2 separate regions of the Homo sapiens genome follow, and region 1 is linked to region 2. The links come from fine-mapping of genetic effects on gene expression. A gene starts in region 2. The other region holds a variant in brackets. All regions are shown on one strand. Distances are from middle to middle.

The links. PIP is the estimated chance that this variant, and not a neighbour inherited with it, causes the effect. A credible set is the group of variants that fine-mapping cannot tell apart.
Region 1: its variant is the best candidate, but not a certain one, in a credible set for the expression of RPAP3 in whole blood (INTERVAL, PIP 0.70).

The regions. Positions count from the first base shown.
Region 1 is chr12:47,473,111-47,481,883 of GRCh38, forward strand. No RefSeq gene overlaps it. Among named protein-coding and RNA genes, the nearest start is that of LINC02156, 62 kb to the left of the region's middle. The variant T/A (reference allele first, on the strand shown) is at 4,063.
Region 2 is chr12:47,702,892-47,710,894 of GRCh38, forward strand. It overlaps RPAP3 (RNA polymerase II associated protein 3), which reads right to left and starts at 3,139. Exons shown (of 17, transcript NM_024604.3): 1 at 3,061-3,139. ENDOU (endonuclease, poly(U) specific) reads right to left here. Exons shown (of 10, transcript NM_001172439.2): 10 at 6,843-8,003. The coding sequence ends at 7,911. RPAP3-DT (RPAP3 divergent transcript) reads left to right here and starts at 3,197. Exons shown (of 4, transcript NR_183480.1): 1 at 3,197-3,272. RefSeq lists enhancers at 2,353-2,854, 2,855-3,354, 3,075-3,369, 3,301-3,450 and silencers at 2,601-2,690, 2,721-3,010, 3,081-3,160.

The DNA.
Region 1 (8,773 bases), 230 kb before region 2:
TGACAGGAACAGCCTCTTCCCTCTCTTCCTAGAAGGAAAAATAGAAATAAAAGCAGTCTATAACGTGCAAGAAAAGGATAGAATTTCAGCTTCCCATTCGGCTGATGTGATTCTTTCTTTTCGACTGTAAAATGCTTTAACAACAGAACACATAAACAGAGCTCACAGAGTCTAGGCACTAAGCCAAGAGCCCCTCATAGATGATCTTGTTCAATTCTCCCTGTGATTCTATGAAGAGCACTGCTCTGATGCTCATGTTAGAGATGAAGAAATTGGATTTCAAGTGCTTGAACAACTTGCCCAAGAGAATATTTAACTAATAAAGTTGTGAAACTGTGATTCAAACCCAGGAAGCCTAGATTCTTAACCAAGAGCTTACATTCTTAAAGAAGGTGCTATACTACCTCCCAAGTAAAAAGCTAAAACAAAACACCTTATGAGGACAGCTTTATATTTTAATATCCTACTTCAGATAATAATAAAGGATAGCTTCACTTTCATTTCAACTGTAACTCATAAACCTTGGAGCTAAAGATAAAAGGTGTAATCATTAGGCTACTTTCACATCAAGTACCATAATTTTCCACTTCCCACTATTTAAAATTATTACCCATTGTCTCCATGTGTAAGAGTTTAGTCATAACAGGGAATAATGTTTCTTTACAGTAATGAAGTTCTTGTGAATATCAGAATATGAGAGAAAAGGGTCTCTTCTGTTCCAGAAGAATCATAGTAGAGTCTGAAAGCATGAGATTAAGGGAGTTTAAGAGGTTTATACATCCACACAGTACCCATAAACACAAACCTAAACACTATAGAATCCACTTGTGGTTCAGTTTACTAAGTGAATCAATAAACTCGCATATTTGAAGCGCTCTGCCTATTATAAAGTGCTATACAAGTGTTGATTGTTTTTTCTAAATCAATTCTTCAGAAATGTAGACACTATAGGAAAATAAGATGGAAAGGCCATAATGCTAACAGAGATTGTACTTTATTGTTGATTATATTATGAGGCTCTGCTTTATGGCAAATACTCCTGGGAATATGTTTAGGCACCTTTAGTTCAAATGACTATGTGATGTCAGTCTGACAACCCTATTTGTGGGACAAACTGCATGCTTGAGTCAGTTGCAGAGCTCTGTGTAGTGTTATAAAACAGAGGTTTTTTTTTTTTTCCCAAGATAATTGATTAGAGGTTTTCAGCATGCCTTAGCCACTTGGAAATAGCAAAATCAGTCATAAAGATCAACTCTGTGGGCTTTAATTCAAGAAGGAAAACAGGAATCCACCAGAATAGTGAAGGACATCTCATCCCAGGTGCCAGGGAAGAGAAGGTGGGCAAGCTGCCCCGATGATGGCATTTGTCTGACAAAAGTGAGTGAAGCCCTAGAACAGGACAGGAGGAGGTAGAAAGCCTCCCTCTGTGACTCACCTTTCCACTGGGGATCCATGCAACCAGGCTAAGGGAGAGCACTTTGTTCCTCCAAAGCCTTGGCGCCAACTTGGAGAGAAGCTTGGAGACACTGAAAGGGAAGGACACCAGACAAAGTTGTAGGCATTTTCCCAGGCCTGATTTGGAGACTGTGGCACCATTTTTAATCTGGGTGCATACAACATCAGTCATTATTTAGTAGCCTGGCACCATGGCCATACAGCATTTTAGTCTTGGACTAGAGATTGGAGCACCTGCTCTGGAGCTGAGTAGGAGCCTCCACAGCCAGAACAAGTATGGAAAGCACCCAAGCTGTAGGAACTGGAATTGTGCTCTACCCGATCACAGGTCTGGTGCAGGAGGAGAGTGCTGACAGCCAGTTTCTCCTTGGTGAGAAGATGGACAGCCAGGGCCAGTTTGGGGACCTGGAACTGGTCTACATGTGCCATTGCTGGGTGCCCCAGCCTGCTCCCCTGAGATTGTGATGTAGTAGAGCCCTTTCTACTCCACACCCAGGCTGATCTCCAAGCATTCAGAGCACCCACTCTTCTGGATTAGCATCCTGAGCTGCTCCACCCCTCCTGTGCATAGATTGGGGTGCCATGGGGCCTCTTCTGTTCCATATCCGGGCAGATCTCCAGGCAGTTAGAGCACCCCCTTGATGGGATCTGCAGCTAGAGCCACCCTACCCTTCCTGTACATAGAATGTGGTACAGCAGGGCCCTCTCCACTTTACTTCCAGCAGATCTCCAGGCATTTGGATCTCCCACCCACCTACACCAGCAGCCTGAGTTGCCCAGTCATCCTATGCATAGATTGTGGTGCAGTGGTGCCATCTCTGTCCCATGCCCAGGTTGATCTCTAAGTATTTGGAGCACATCACCTGGGTAAGCAGCCTGAGACACTCCACCCTCCCTATGCAGAGATTGTGGTGGAATGGGGCCCTCTACACTCCACACCCAGGCAGAGCTCCAGGCATCTAGAGCAGTCATTCTCCTGGATTTGGAATTTAGGTGGCTGCATTCCCTGTGCAGAGAACTTGAAGCCAAAGAGTTCCTATTCAGCCCCAAGGCACACCTAGACACATCTGTGGGCACTTGGTGGCTGTGCACTGGACCCCCCTTGGTGCTGGTTCTTGTGCCTGCCATTGGGTGACCTGTAAGCAGGCCTGGTCTAGCCCCAACCATCTTTATCCCTCAGCTATGGTGCTGAGCAGGGTGCTCAGGCCACTGTGAACTCCACAGATCTGCCATTTGCTTCCAGAAACAGAGACCTTCTCCAGTAAACAAGGATTAAACATATACCCATCTATGTTGGCCACATCTGGCTCTTACTCATTAGAACCATGAACTTGTCTGTAGGTTGAACTGCCCAATATAAAACTGGCTGACAGAAGTGCATAGAGATATTGAAATGAAGCCAAAAGGTTTTACCCAACATTCTCTAAAGTCATATCCCCTAGGGACATGGGCAAAGGGGAAGAAAATAATAACACAGGAAAAGAGAGAAAGGAAAAACAAATCCTATCTGCATGAAAATAATGACAAAATTTAGAAGTGTCAGTGGCCTCAGATGAGAAGGAACCAGTGCATGAATTCTAGCACCATGAAAAATCTGAGTGCTGTGACATCATCAAAGGATCACACTAGCTATCCAGCAACAGTCTGTAATCAAAATGAAAACTCAGAAAGGAAGGATGAAGAATTCAAAGCATGGATTACTAGGAAGCCCAGTGAGATCCAGGACAAGGTTGAAAATCAACACAAAGAAACTTCTAAAGCAATCCAGGAAATGAAGGCAGACATAAACATCTTAAAAATAAATCAATCCAAGCTTCTGGAATTGAAAAACTCACTTAAGGAATTTCAAAGTACAATTGAAACCTTTATCAATAGACTAGCCCAAACAGAAAAAAGGATTTAGAGCTAGAAGACTGATCTTTTAAACTAACCCAGTCAGACAAAAATAAAGAAAAAAGAATTTTAAAAATGAATAAGATCTTCAAGAAAATGGATTATGTAAAGCAACCAAACCTATGAATTAATGGCATTTCTATGAGAGGAGAAAAAGTAAACAACCTGGAAAATATATTCGAAGTAATAATCCAATAAAATATTTCCAGTTTTGCCAGAGAGGTAGACATCCTGTACAAGACATCCAGAGAACACCTGCAAGATACTATACAAAACGAACATCACCAAGGAATATAGTCGCCAGACTGTCCAAGGTCAATGCTAAAGAAAAAATTGTAAAGGCAACAGAAAAGATCAGGTCACACACAAAGGGAACCCAATAAGGCTAACAGAAAACTTCTAAGCAGAAATCTTTCAAGCTACAACAGTTTGAGGGCCTATTTTCAACATTCTTAAATAAAAGAAATTCCAAACAAGAATTTTATATTCCACCAAACTAAGCTTCATAAGTGAAGGAGAAATAAAACCTTTTCCAGACATGCAATTGCTAAGGTAATTCACTACCACTAGACCAGCCTAACAAGAGATCCTCAAGAGAGGTCTAAACATGGAAAAGAAAGAACAATACCTACTACCACAAAAACACATTTAAGTACATAGTCCAGAGATGCTATAAAGCAATTATACAATACAAACTACAAAGCAACCAGCTAA[T/A]GACTCCATGATAGGATCAAAATCTCACATACTAATATTAACTTTGAATGTATATGGTCTAAACACCCCACTTAAAAGGCACAGAGTGGCAAGTTGGATAAAAAAAAAGGAAGAGCCATTCATCTGCTATCTTCAAGAGACCCATCTGACATGTAATGACACCCCTAGTCTCAAAGTAAAGGGGAGAAGAAAAATCTATCACTCAAATGGAAAACAAAAAAGAACAGGAGTCACTATTCTTATATCAGATAAAATAGACTTTACACTTACAGCAGTAAAAAAGGACAAAGAAGGGCATTACACAATGATAAATAATTCAGTACCACAAGAAGACTTAACTGTCCTAGATATATACCCTCCCAACATTGGAGCACACAGATTCATAAAACAAGTACTTCTAGACATACAAAAAGACAGTCACACAATAATAGTGGAGGACTTCAACACCTCCACTGACAGCATTTGACAGGTCATCAAGGCAGAAAACTAACAAAGAAATTCTGATCTTAAATTTGACACTTGACCAATTGGACCTAATAGACATTTACAGACTAATCCACCCATCAGTCACAGAATACACATTCTGCTCATCTGTACATGGAGCATACTCTAAGATTGACCACATGCTCGCCATAAAGCAATAAATAAATTCAAAAATTCAAAACTATATGAACTATACACTCAGACCACAGTGGAATAAAAATAAAAATCAATACCAAGAAGATCTCTCAAAGCCACACAATTACATAAAAATTAAGCAACTTTCTCCTGAATGACTTCTGGTAAACAATGAAATTAAGGCAGAAATCAAAAAAGTTTGAAATAAATGGAAACAGAGACACAACATATCAAAATTTCTAGGATGCAGCAAAAGCAGTGTCAAGAGGAAACTTAGTAGCTCTAAATACCTACATCAAGAAGTTAGAGAGATCTCAAATTAATGATCTAACATTACACCTAGAGGAACTAGAAAAATAAGAGTAAGCTAACCCCAAAGCTAGCAGAGGAAAAGAAATACCTAAAATCAGAGCAGAACTGAATGAAGTTGAGACAAAAAATCCATACACAGAATCAACAAACAAAAAGTTGGCTTTTTGAAAGGAGAAATAATATTGATAGACTGCTAAGTAGATTAACAAAGAAAAAAGAGAGAAGATACAAATAAACACAATCAGAAATGACAAAGGTGACATTACAACTGATACCACAGAAATACAAGAGTCCCAGAGATTATCATGAACACTTCCATGCACACAAACTAGAAAATCTAGACTAAGTGGATAAATTTCTGGACACATACACCCTCCCAAGACTGAACCAAGAAGAAATTGAATCCTTGAACAGACCAACATTGAGTTTTGAAATGGAATCATTCATAAAAATCCTTCCAACCAAGAGAAACCCTGGACCAGATGGATTCACAGCTGAATCCTACCAGATGTACAGAGAAGAGCTGGTACTACTTCTACTGAAACTATTCCAAAAAATCGAGAAGAGACTCCTTCCTAATTCATTCTTTGAAGCCAGCATCTCTCTGATACCAAAACCTGGCAAAGAGACAACAACAAAATAAGAAAACTGCAGGCCAATATTCATGATGAACATAGGCAAAAAGAAAAAAAATCCTCAACAAAATATCAGCAAACCAAATCCAGCAGCACATCAAAGAGTTTATTCACCATGATCAAGTAGACTTTATTCCTGTGATGCAAGGTTGGTTCAGAACACACAAATAAATAAATGTGATTCACCACATAAACATAATTAAAACAAAAACCATCTGATTATCTCAATAGACTCAGAGAAAGCTTGTGATAAAATCGAACATCGCTTCATGATAAAAACCCTCCAGAAAGTAAGCATCAAAGGAACATACCTCAAAATAATAAGAGCCATCTATCACAAACCCACAGTCAACATCATACTAAATGGGCAAATACTAGAATCATTCCCCTTGAGAACTGGAATAAGACAAGTATGCTCATTCTCACCATTACTATTCAATATAGTAATGGAAGTCTTAGCCAGAGCAATTAGCAAGAGAAAGAAATAAAAGTCGAACAAAAAACCAAACACCGCATATTCTCACTCATAGGTGGGAATTGAACAATGAGATCACATGGACACAGGAAGGGGAACATCACACTCTGGGGACTGTTGTGGGTGGGGGGAGGGGGGCAGGGATAGCATTGGAAGATATACCTAATGCTAGATGACGAGTTAGTGGGTGCAGCGCACCAGCATGGCACACGTATACATATGTAACTAACCTGCACAATGTGCACATGTACCCTAAAACTTAAAGTATAAAAAAAAAGGTCATCCAAATAGGAAAAGAAAAATTCAAATTCTCTCTCTTTGCTGATGATACGGCTTTATACTTAGAAAACCCTAAAGACTCCATCAAAAGGCTCCTAGTCTTGATAAACCACTTTAGTAAAGTTTCAGGATACAAAATTTATGTACAAAATTAGTACTATTTCTATATATCAATAGTGTTCAAACTGAGATCCAAATCAAGAACACAATCCTATTTACAATAGCAAAAAAAAAAAAAAAAAGAAAGAAAGAAAGAAAGAAAACCCTATGAATACACCTAACCAAGTAGGTGAAAGTTCTCTAAGGAAGAGCCACAAAACTGCTGAAAGAAATCAGAGATGACACAAAAAAATGGAAAAACATCTCACACTCAAGGATAGGAAAAAAAATCAATATTATAAAATAGCCACACTGCCCAAAGAAGTCTACAGATTCAATGCTATTCCTATCAAACTATCAATCTCATATTTCACAGAACTCAAAGTGTTCTAAAATTCACATGAGACCAAAAAAGAGCTCTAATAGCCAAAGCAATCCTAAACAAAAAGATCAAAGCTGGAGGCATCACATTACTCAATTTCAAACTACACTATAAGAAGACAGTAACCAAAAAAGCATGGTATGGGTACAAAAATAGACACATAGACCAATGGAACAGAATAGAGAACTCAGAAATAAACCTAAACACCTACAGCCATCCAATCTTTGACAAAGTTGGAAAAAATAAGCAATGGGGAAAGGAGTCCCTATTCAATAAATGGTGCTGGGATAGCATCAGAATGCAAGGTCTGAAAAATACCTCAAACATCAATCTTAGGTTTCACAATTGCAATGTTATCTAAAAGAGAAATTGGGGAGGTTACAAATCTTTTGACCTCTGGCTACATGACTCTTGAACCATAATTCTAATCTTGTGGACAGTTTATTAGTTTTACAAAGGTGGTTTTTATACCCAAGAAAAGAGAGGGTTAGTTTTGGGAAGGGACTAATATCTTTGTTTTTGAAGTTAAACTATAAACTAAATTCCTTCCATAGTTAACTTAGCCTGTGCCCAGGAATGAGCAAAGACCATTAGCTTGTGAGGTTAGAAGCAAGGTGGAGTCAGTTACGTCAGATTTGTCTCACCGTCATAATTTTTCAAAGGTGGTTTCATTCCTGCTATTGTCACCTCTTTGTGTGTGTGTGTGTTTTGTTGTTGTTGTTTTGCCTATATGCCTCTCCTTGCTTCCATTTTTCACTTTGATACTTGTATGTGCCAGATTTGAGACCCTGGGTTGCCCTGAGAGGGAGAAAAGGCATTTTTACTACCACATCCTGCCATCTCTGTGACTGGACATATAAGTTCAATAGACAGTAAGAGATGCTGAGGTGGCTGTGAAACCTGTGAGTTTAAAATGGATTAGGATGAATAACCATAGCACCATTTGTTAGGGTTCAAAGTATCAGGGCCCAGGGAAATTCTCTGGCGTGGAAAGAAGGAGGACAGCAGGCCCACCAACCCAGAGGGTCAGTGGGCACTTCTTAATGCTTGTAAAGCTTGCTGGTGGGTGCCCTGTCCCCTACCCCTCAGGTACTCCCCATCAAGGAGCAGAAGCTCAGAAATATGCGCAGCCTGTTCCCTGGAGATAAATGACCCTAGGGATGATTCACACCTTATTTGCCTCCTTCTGCTCATTTTCATATTACCTGTCAGTTCAGATTCATATGCTGTTTGCTGCTTAAAGCCTTATTTCCTAAAATAATGAGAACAGAACGATTTTCTATTCTTTTCCAGTGTTATGGCTATATTATGGGCTTATTTTATTTTGTACCTGTGGGTAGAGTTCAATTATATCCCTGTCTTTTTCAGATATATAAAAAATAGGGCTTTCTTTATGATTCAAGATAGCTTTCTGTAATGACAAAAGTAGGGAAACAAATCAAAGGGATGAGAAAAATATTCATAGAGAAATGATGTTCTGGACAGGAGGGTCCCCATTTTATGAACATCAGAGTAGATGGATTTCACCTAGGTCTAGAGGGGAAACAAATGGGCTGATGGCTTGTGCACTCTCTCTTTTTTTTAGGAAAACATTTGCTGAGCTCTTAAAGTACACAATGTTTCTGAAGATAACCGTGAAATATTTGGGGTACGAATACAAGCACAGAAAAAAACAAAAAAGCAATTATTTTTTATTCTGTGAAGTCTCTTGGGATACAAAAAATATATGCTTTTTCCTCAAGATGACTTCTCAAGATAAATCCATTTGAATTACAACATGAGAGAGAAAGAGAATTATTCCAGTGAATTAAGGCTAAGGAGAAAATTAGGCATCAAAAACTTTTCTGTCATTCTGTCCTCTAAAATAGAATGCTAGATAACAAATATCTTAAAGAATGCATTAAACACAAT
Region 2 (8,003 bases):
TGGTTTATTTTTCTGAAAGCTAGCTAATTATCTTTTACCACTTCATAAGTGGCCAAGATACATGGACAGAAGACAGCCAACTGATGCTGAATAAAGAAAAATCAATATAATATTTTAAAAATAAATCAGTTGCTGAATAAACAAATGAAAAATAGACAAGTTGAAGCATCCTTGAAAGGCAACATTAAAGAAAGGTAATGGGGAGAAAAATCACTGAAATTATCAGGTAGCCTGTGGTAGCAGACAGGCTGCTCATCTCTGGAGTTGAGCGATTACCTCCTTTATTTCTTTTTCTTCCAACATTTAACTTCTACTATGTGAAAGGCCCTGAATCAAGATTTAGGGATGCAAAAACAAGACAAGGTCCCTTGTGCAGTGGAGAAGAAAAAAATATATAAAGCACTAGTAACAAAATATGTTAAGCAGGGTTTCTCAACCTTGGGACTACTGACATTTTGGGCCAAAAAATTTATTTTAAGAGTGCTGTCCTGTGCATTGTAGGAGGGTTGGCAACATTTCTGTCCTCTACCAACTAGGTGCCAGGATTATCCCTTCCTCTCATGGATTGTGACAACGAAGAATCCCAGACACTGCCAAATGTTCCCTGAGAGGTAAAATAACCCCTGGTTGAGAACCCTGCGTCAGAGGTACATACAGATGCTATGGAACTGACTGCAAAAAATAGGCATGGATCAGATAGTAGGGTGGTGGTGTCACGGAAGGAGTCCCCAGAGGTGTTGGAACTTTAGCTGGATTTCAAAGGGGCCCGCCAAGTGACTAACAGGGAGGAGTGGGCAGGCAGAGTGAGGAATTATGAGGGAGAATGAAGGAAAAGAAAATTAAAGAGGTGGACATGGGACAGACTTGAAATGGCAGGCCATGAGGTCTAACCTATATTCTGAAAGTTATGTGAAAATATCAAGGTAGTAAAATAAAAAGAACTTGATGACTGACTAGACTGAGGTGTTGGAGAACAGAGAAAGACTCAAACAGTGGCCTAGATTTCTGGCTTGGGACCCCGGTAAGATTACTGATGCCATTTTGAGTCAAGAAATACAATGTTAAAAGGAAAAGAGGCATCAAAGTTGGAGGGCAAACGGAAAGTCAGATTATTTGTTTGGGATATGCTGAATTTGAGTGCTAATGGGGCGAAGAGATACCCCATAGGTAGCTATGTAGGAATAGAGATAAATTCCGGTGTCACTAGCAGAAAGGTAGAAGCTAGAATCAAGGATGTGGCCATGTTTAACCATTGTGACAACTGGGGAATGGGGTGAACCTGGAGAACACTAAACGGAGAAAGAGATGCCAAGGAAGAAAAAAGTAGGCAGTAGCACCTAGACAGTTGGGAGAAAAACCTAGAGTGTACTGTTACAGATGACAAAAAATGAGTTGAAGAAAGTGAGAGGTTAGCAGTGCCAAATGCCACAGAGGGAAAGAAAGTGCATTATATTTAGTCATAAAAAGACTATTCAGAGTTTTTGTTTTTTTTCTTGAGACAGAGTCTTGCTCTGTCGCCCAGGCTGGAGTGCAGTGGCGCAAACTCAGCTCACTGCAACCTCCACCTCCTAGGTTCAAGTGATTCTCCTGCCTCAGCCTCCCGAGCAGCTGGGATTACAGGTGCAGGCCACCACGCCCGGCTAATTTTTGTATTTTTTTTTTTTTTAGTAGAGACGGGGTTTCACCACGTTGGCCAGGCTGGTCTCGAACTCCTGACCTCAAGTGATCCGCCCACCTCGGCCTCCCAAAGTGCTGGGATTATAGGCATGAGCCACCGCGCCTGACCTCTATTTAGAGTTTCAATAAGATTTTTTTTAAAGGGTGGAAGGCCAACCGCAGGTGGCTCATGCCTGTAATCCCGGCACTTTGGGAGGCAGAGGTTGGGGGGCAGGGGGAATAGCTTGGGCTCAGGAGTTCCTAGATCAGCCTGGGCAACACTTCGAGATCCCCATCTCTACTAAAAACACAAAAATTAGCCAGGCGTGGTGGAGGGTGCCTATAGTTCCAGCTACTCAGGAGGCTGAGGTGGGAGGATCGGGAGATCGAGGCCACAGTGGGCGGTGACGGGCCCACTACACTCCAGCCTGGGACCAAAAAAAAAGGAGGGGGGGGAATGAAATGAGTTACGTAAATGAGATTATATGGAGATTACAGTACATTTGCCTTTGATAATATAAGACTTGTTCTTGAGCATAGTCTGGGGAAAAAGCAACAAAGTAAAAGATACAGGAAAAAGGATGAGTGATGGGGCAAAATCTCCAAAAAGGTAGGAGAAGAGTCAAAGCTTTAGGCGGAGGGAAGAGAAGTAAGGTGGGAGGGAGAGAGACGGAATTAGAAAAACATTTGTTTAGGACAGTGAAAAATACCTCACTAAGAAGGGACAGTTGCAGATGCAGATAGGTCTTCTGACTCGTAGCCTCAACAACTAAATTAGGTTTAAGCTTCTTTCAGGCAGTGTCCATGTTTGACCATATATGCACAACTCATTCAAAAACAAAACTAGTACAACGCTTTGTTGGGAACTCAAATAAATGAATAAAAGCGCAACAAGTCAGTGAGATGCTGACGGGGGTTAGATGCTTTTCCATTTCACCCATCACCGCTGCTGCTCGAGCAGGCCCAAAAACTCTCCCAGGGACCCTGCGATGGGGCGGGGGTGCGAGCCAGCAATCAAAAACTTCCAGCGCTGGGGGTATCACTTTCACACCCGCTGTCCCGGCGAACACCGCACACCCACGCCGCAAGGGGGCGGGCCCCACCTCGGTCTTTGCGGGAGGGCGGCTCTGCCTTCCCGAGCACTGCAAAATCGCAGCAGGGTGGAGGGTCCGCCTGCAAAGCAGAGCGCGCAGGCCCGGGTTGCGGGGGCGAGCCCCTCCGGGAACGCGCGACCCGAGACGCCGCTGCCCTGGACACCGACGCGCCGCCTCAACGCGCGCCTCCACCGCCAGCCCCGGCCCGCCCCGCCTCACCGGTACCCATAACCGCTACCCCTCCTCCCACCGGCCACCCCAAGGATCTCCTACGCTGCTCCGGGCAGCGAGAACCGCAACGCCCGCTCACCTGACCAGGCCGTAACCCGCCGCACTGCCACCCCGTCAGCCCCGCAGCGACTCACGCCGAGCCCGGCAGTGACTCACGCAAAGCCCCGCCTCCTGCGCTTCCCCACAAGCCCCCGCGGCCTCGCCCCGCCCCCTTTAGCCTGGGCTTGAGCGCGCGCAGAAGTCAGCTTCGTGACTTCCTTCTCAGGATGGAACCAGCTTGGTGGCTTGAGGGTATGTAAAAGCAATATCTGAGCCTTCTGCCTGCTTCCAATATGACTAAGCTTAAAAGGAGATAACCCAAAAACTGCAGGATCATCCTGATTTTCTGATCTCCAAAACAATAAAACCTTGAATATTTCCCTGGACTCCCTTAAACAGTTTAATCCCTAATATTTACCTTGCTAATCTCTGACCTTTGTGACATTAATTTGTCTGACCTTTGTGAGTATAATAACCATGTGAGAAAGTTACTGTTTTTCCACCATGAACAGACTACTGTCAACCGGTAATCCTGGTAATTTTAGGGGATTTTTTTTTCCCTTTAAGTACTGGTTGGCAAACTAGTCCTTCCGTCTAACTCCTCGCATCTTTTGCAAGTAAACCCCTTTTCTAAGTGAATCTATCTCTGAGTCTTTCTTTGACATGTGCCAGTGTTACAATCTGTCTTTAGATATGCTCTGGCTTACAGAGAAAAAAGAACGAAACTTTTAACACTTTTTGCTTCTGCTTCCCGTGTGAGGGAGTCTTCGTTGCAATGACAACTCTTAAACGAAAGCAAAACAAAAATAATTGCAGAAGTCCACAGAAGCAAACACAAACAAATGAAACTTTCCATTTAAAACAGGACTGTAACCTCAAATATCCTCAAAATCCAGATCGGTGGTTCTCAGTCTTGACTGAGCTTTGGAATCACTTAGGGAGTATATACATATACACGTGTGTGTGTGTGTGTGTTTGTGTCTGTGTGTGTGTGTGTGTGTGTGTGTGTGTGTGTGTGTGTGTGTATACTGATTTCTGTGTCCTATCCCAGAGATTCTGATGTAACTAGTCTTGAGTGAAGCCAATCAGAATTTTTTAAAGCATAGGATACGGCTGTGCATTTGAAGCTGGAAGCCACTAACCCAGGCGCTGATCAATGAAGAACTAGGCTGGAGTGCTGTCTTACAAGGTCATATCATTAGCACATCCTTCCCATTGCTTAATTATTGGTATCTTTATATTTTAAAATCATAGTAGTCAAATCATTAAGTGTACGTCAAAATATTTACTAATGAAATGATTCTTTGGTTGTATTAGGGAGATAGAGAACTGACTTTTAATAATTTTTTTATTAAGTATTTAAAAGCAAATATTGATTTACTGGTGTTTTTAACAAAAGCAACCACATTTGTTTTATTAATTCTGACAGAGTTGATTGAGAAGAGAGATAAGGGGGCTAGCTGGCTGCTCTAGTAAAACCTCATAGACCCTTAGGTGACCCTGCTTTTCTCTCTCTTTTTCTCTCTCAAACCATACAATAATCAGAAGTAGCTTAGTGAATATAGAGTCAAAGTGAGAAAAGTTAATCAAATGGTTTTGATGGTCATCATCACCTAATTCTGAGGCTCCTGCTGTCCCACAAAACCTGTGCCTGCAATGGCAGCCTTCTCTCCTGTGAGCTCAGACCTAGGCCACCTTAAGTTCTTTCCTAGATTCCTTGCAGACCTCCCCACTTCTATTGGCAGTTATCTTTAAATGGATTTCAACAAAATGTGTAAATAATGCCTTTCTTTTAAGTCTCTTTTATTCATTTACTCCAGTCATCTCAATTGAACTTATCATTAATACCTGAAGAGTTATTTTCAAAGAGACAAACCTCTTTATGTGTTTTATGTGTTGCAGTTGTAATGGTCAGTGGAAATAAACAGGAGTGTTTATTATTGCAACAATAAAATGCTGCAATTAATGATTGTAAATGCTATTAATTTTAATATCCAAAACAATTATTGGGCTCTTTCAAATAGTTAAAGAGTCTGACAGTTAATGTAAATCTTAAGAAAGGAAGTATTAGCTAAGTAACTTTAGGAAGAAAATGAACCTTGGGACTTCCTGTTATGGAGATACTATGTTAAGTTTGGTTGCATGTGACAGAAAGCCCAAAATAAGAGTGGCTTAAACATGAAAGATTATTTTTCTTTCATGTAAAACTGAATATAAGCAATCCAGGATTAGTGTGACAGTTTCGGTGTGAGACCCAGGCTCCTTCCTGGCTGCTCTGTGATCTTCAGCATATGGCTTTCATTCATGGTTCAAGCTGGCTGCTCAAGCTCCCACGATCTTGTCTGAAATCCAGTCGGCAGAAAAGGGCAAGAGTGGGAATAACGGTACCCCCTGCCCATTAAGAATACTTCCTTTTGCATGCCATTGGTGAGGACATAGACACACGCCTACTTCTGGTTGCAAGGGAGGTCAAGAGTCTGTACTCTTGACAGTCATTTGTGTACCTAAAAACTGAGACTTCAGTGAATAAGGAAGAAGAGGAGAGCAGATACTGAGGGGTAACCAGCAGCCTCTGTCAGGGGTCTTAATAAATATTCTTTAAAAAATAATGAATGAATAAGTGAGTAGATACTACTAGAAATCCAGGCTCACTACAACATGAGGAAAAGGGTTGAATTTTGCAATCCTGATTCTGCTACTGACTAAGAATGTGGCTTAATCTGATCCTCAGTTGTCTAGGTAAAATTAAAGTGGTGAAGATAAAAATACCCACCAGAGTGAGAAAATGAATATAAAAGGACTACTTAGCACAGCTTGGGACATGGTAACAGCTTAACAAATGTTAGTTCTTACCTTTCTCTCCTGCAAAGCTAAGGCCCAGACCCTGGAATACAGTACTCTCTCCTGCATTTCTGTCTTTCTGTCTCCTACTGGACTACCTGGAAGACCTCTGAAGAGGCCTATGAAGAGCACAAGTACTGGGCACCAGTAGGTGAAGGTTAAGGCTGATAGCAGGGATAGTAAATTGCCTCTCCCAGTATAAAATTAAATCTGTATAATAAGTGAGACAATAATTACTATAAGAAAGACTAGCATGTTATTTCACATTCCTTATCTCACAACAATGGTAATATTATCCCCATTTGACTGGTGAGGAAACAATCTGAATAATTAAGAAATTTGCTCATATGGCCAGTAAGCAACAGAGCCTGGCTAGGTACCTGGGCAACATGACTTCAGAGCCTGTACCTGTTACCCCTGTGCTCTACTGACTCACTGTCTTGCCTATTGACTGTGAACATCTCTGGGAAAGGGCAGGACAAGGCCCTGTTTCATCTATCTGCAGGCTATAAACTTGCCCGAGGTATCTCTTCATACCTGACCGTTTTCTAGCATTGTGGCTTGAGTAATCTGTTTACAGATAAGAAGTCTTTTTCTGTATCTCTTTAGCATCTCCTCTTCCCCCAGTGTGGTCAACCTCTGCAACCACAGAAGCTACATCCAGAAATGTCCTTATACTCCTGTGTATTTGATAAAGGGGACTGGTTATTGGGGATGGGGACCACCAATCTCCATTTACCACCCCCCCACCGGCCGCCTCACTATCTGTATGCAATGATCCTTCCACTCTTCATATTACAGAATTCTCTTCCCCTCTTGGCTAGAGAGACTTAGTGAGTCAACAGAGACTTCACCCAGATACCACATTCTTCAAGCCATTCTGAAAAGACTCTAGAGCAAAAGTATCACTGCCAGCCCTGCTCTAGGGAAAAGGCAGGGAGACAGACATTGGAGGGAGGCCATATACAAAGAAGACACTCATTTCAAGTTTTCTTCAATGACTTTAATTGGAAACTTGAACCTTCTAAACCATAGTTCACACCCGGCTCTGTGGTACAGCATTTAGTTCTCAGTGGGGTTGGGGGACAAATGCATAATTGAGGTTAAAATAGGGAACTACAGTCTCTCTGGTCTCGTAGAGTTATTCAAATTATGGCTGCTGGATAAGGCTTAAAATAATTATGTTAATGACACCAAGCTATGGGTTCCTTCTTCTTCTGATGCTGAATCATCCTCCTATGAGGAGAACTCTTTCAAAAAAAAATTGGGGATCAAAATACAAGTCTGTGGCTGCACTAAACATCCACAAGTGGGAAACTTCTTGTTGCAGATACTGAGCTGGACACAAAAACACTCAGGCCTGGAGAAGGCCACCCCACCCCCAGCCCATTCACTGCACCAACCTATTACCCTTCTCCATTCAGCATTGGAGTTCTCCCAGACTCTGTTCTGAGAGGATCTAACTCTGGAAAAAACCAAAGGCCCTTGCTTGATTACTGTGGCCTTACTTCTTTGAGGACCCCAACACAGGGCTGAGTGGTAGTTTACAGAGCTGTGTATAATAACAGCCATTATAGTAATCTTGAATTTCTATCAGCTGTTCTTCCTAAGAACAACTGAAAACACCTTCACAGTAAAAATATCAGGGTTTGCCCTCTCACCAACCCCAAAAAGAGGAAAGTGGGCAAACCCCTTCCCTTTACATTAAAGGGAAGCATGAGGCCTGGTGAGGTCAAAGGACTTCTTCCTAGTTCCCCCACACATCAGGGCAGAGAGCTATGGAGGGTTCCTACCTTCTCTGCTTGGACTCTGTTTCTTAGTCAACATTGCCAAAATTCTAGAGGATAAAGGTTTGACTGTTTATCCACATTTTTCTAATTTGTACATTTTATCTCTTTCCCATGTGGGCACTTTGGGATTTAGGAATGCTTCTCATTGCTTTGAGATTTGGTGATCCCTTCCAGTCCTCTCCCTCTTCTCTCTAGTCCAGAGAAGATAGCACTTCAGTCTCGCAAGAGCCCTCATGCCCCTTTCTGGCTCGAAGTTCTATTAGGTGGAAGACACTATGTAGGCTGTGGCGATGTACTTCTTGCCATTCCCATAGGTGGACTTGTCCCAGGTATATGTCCGGACAGCTAAGGG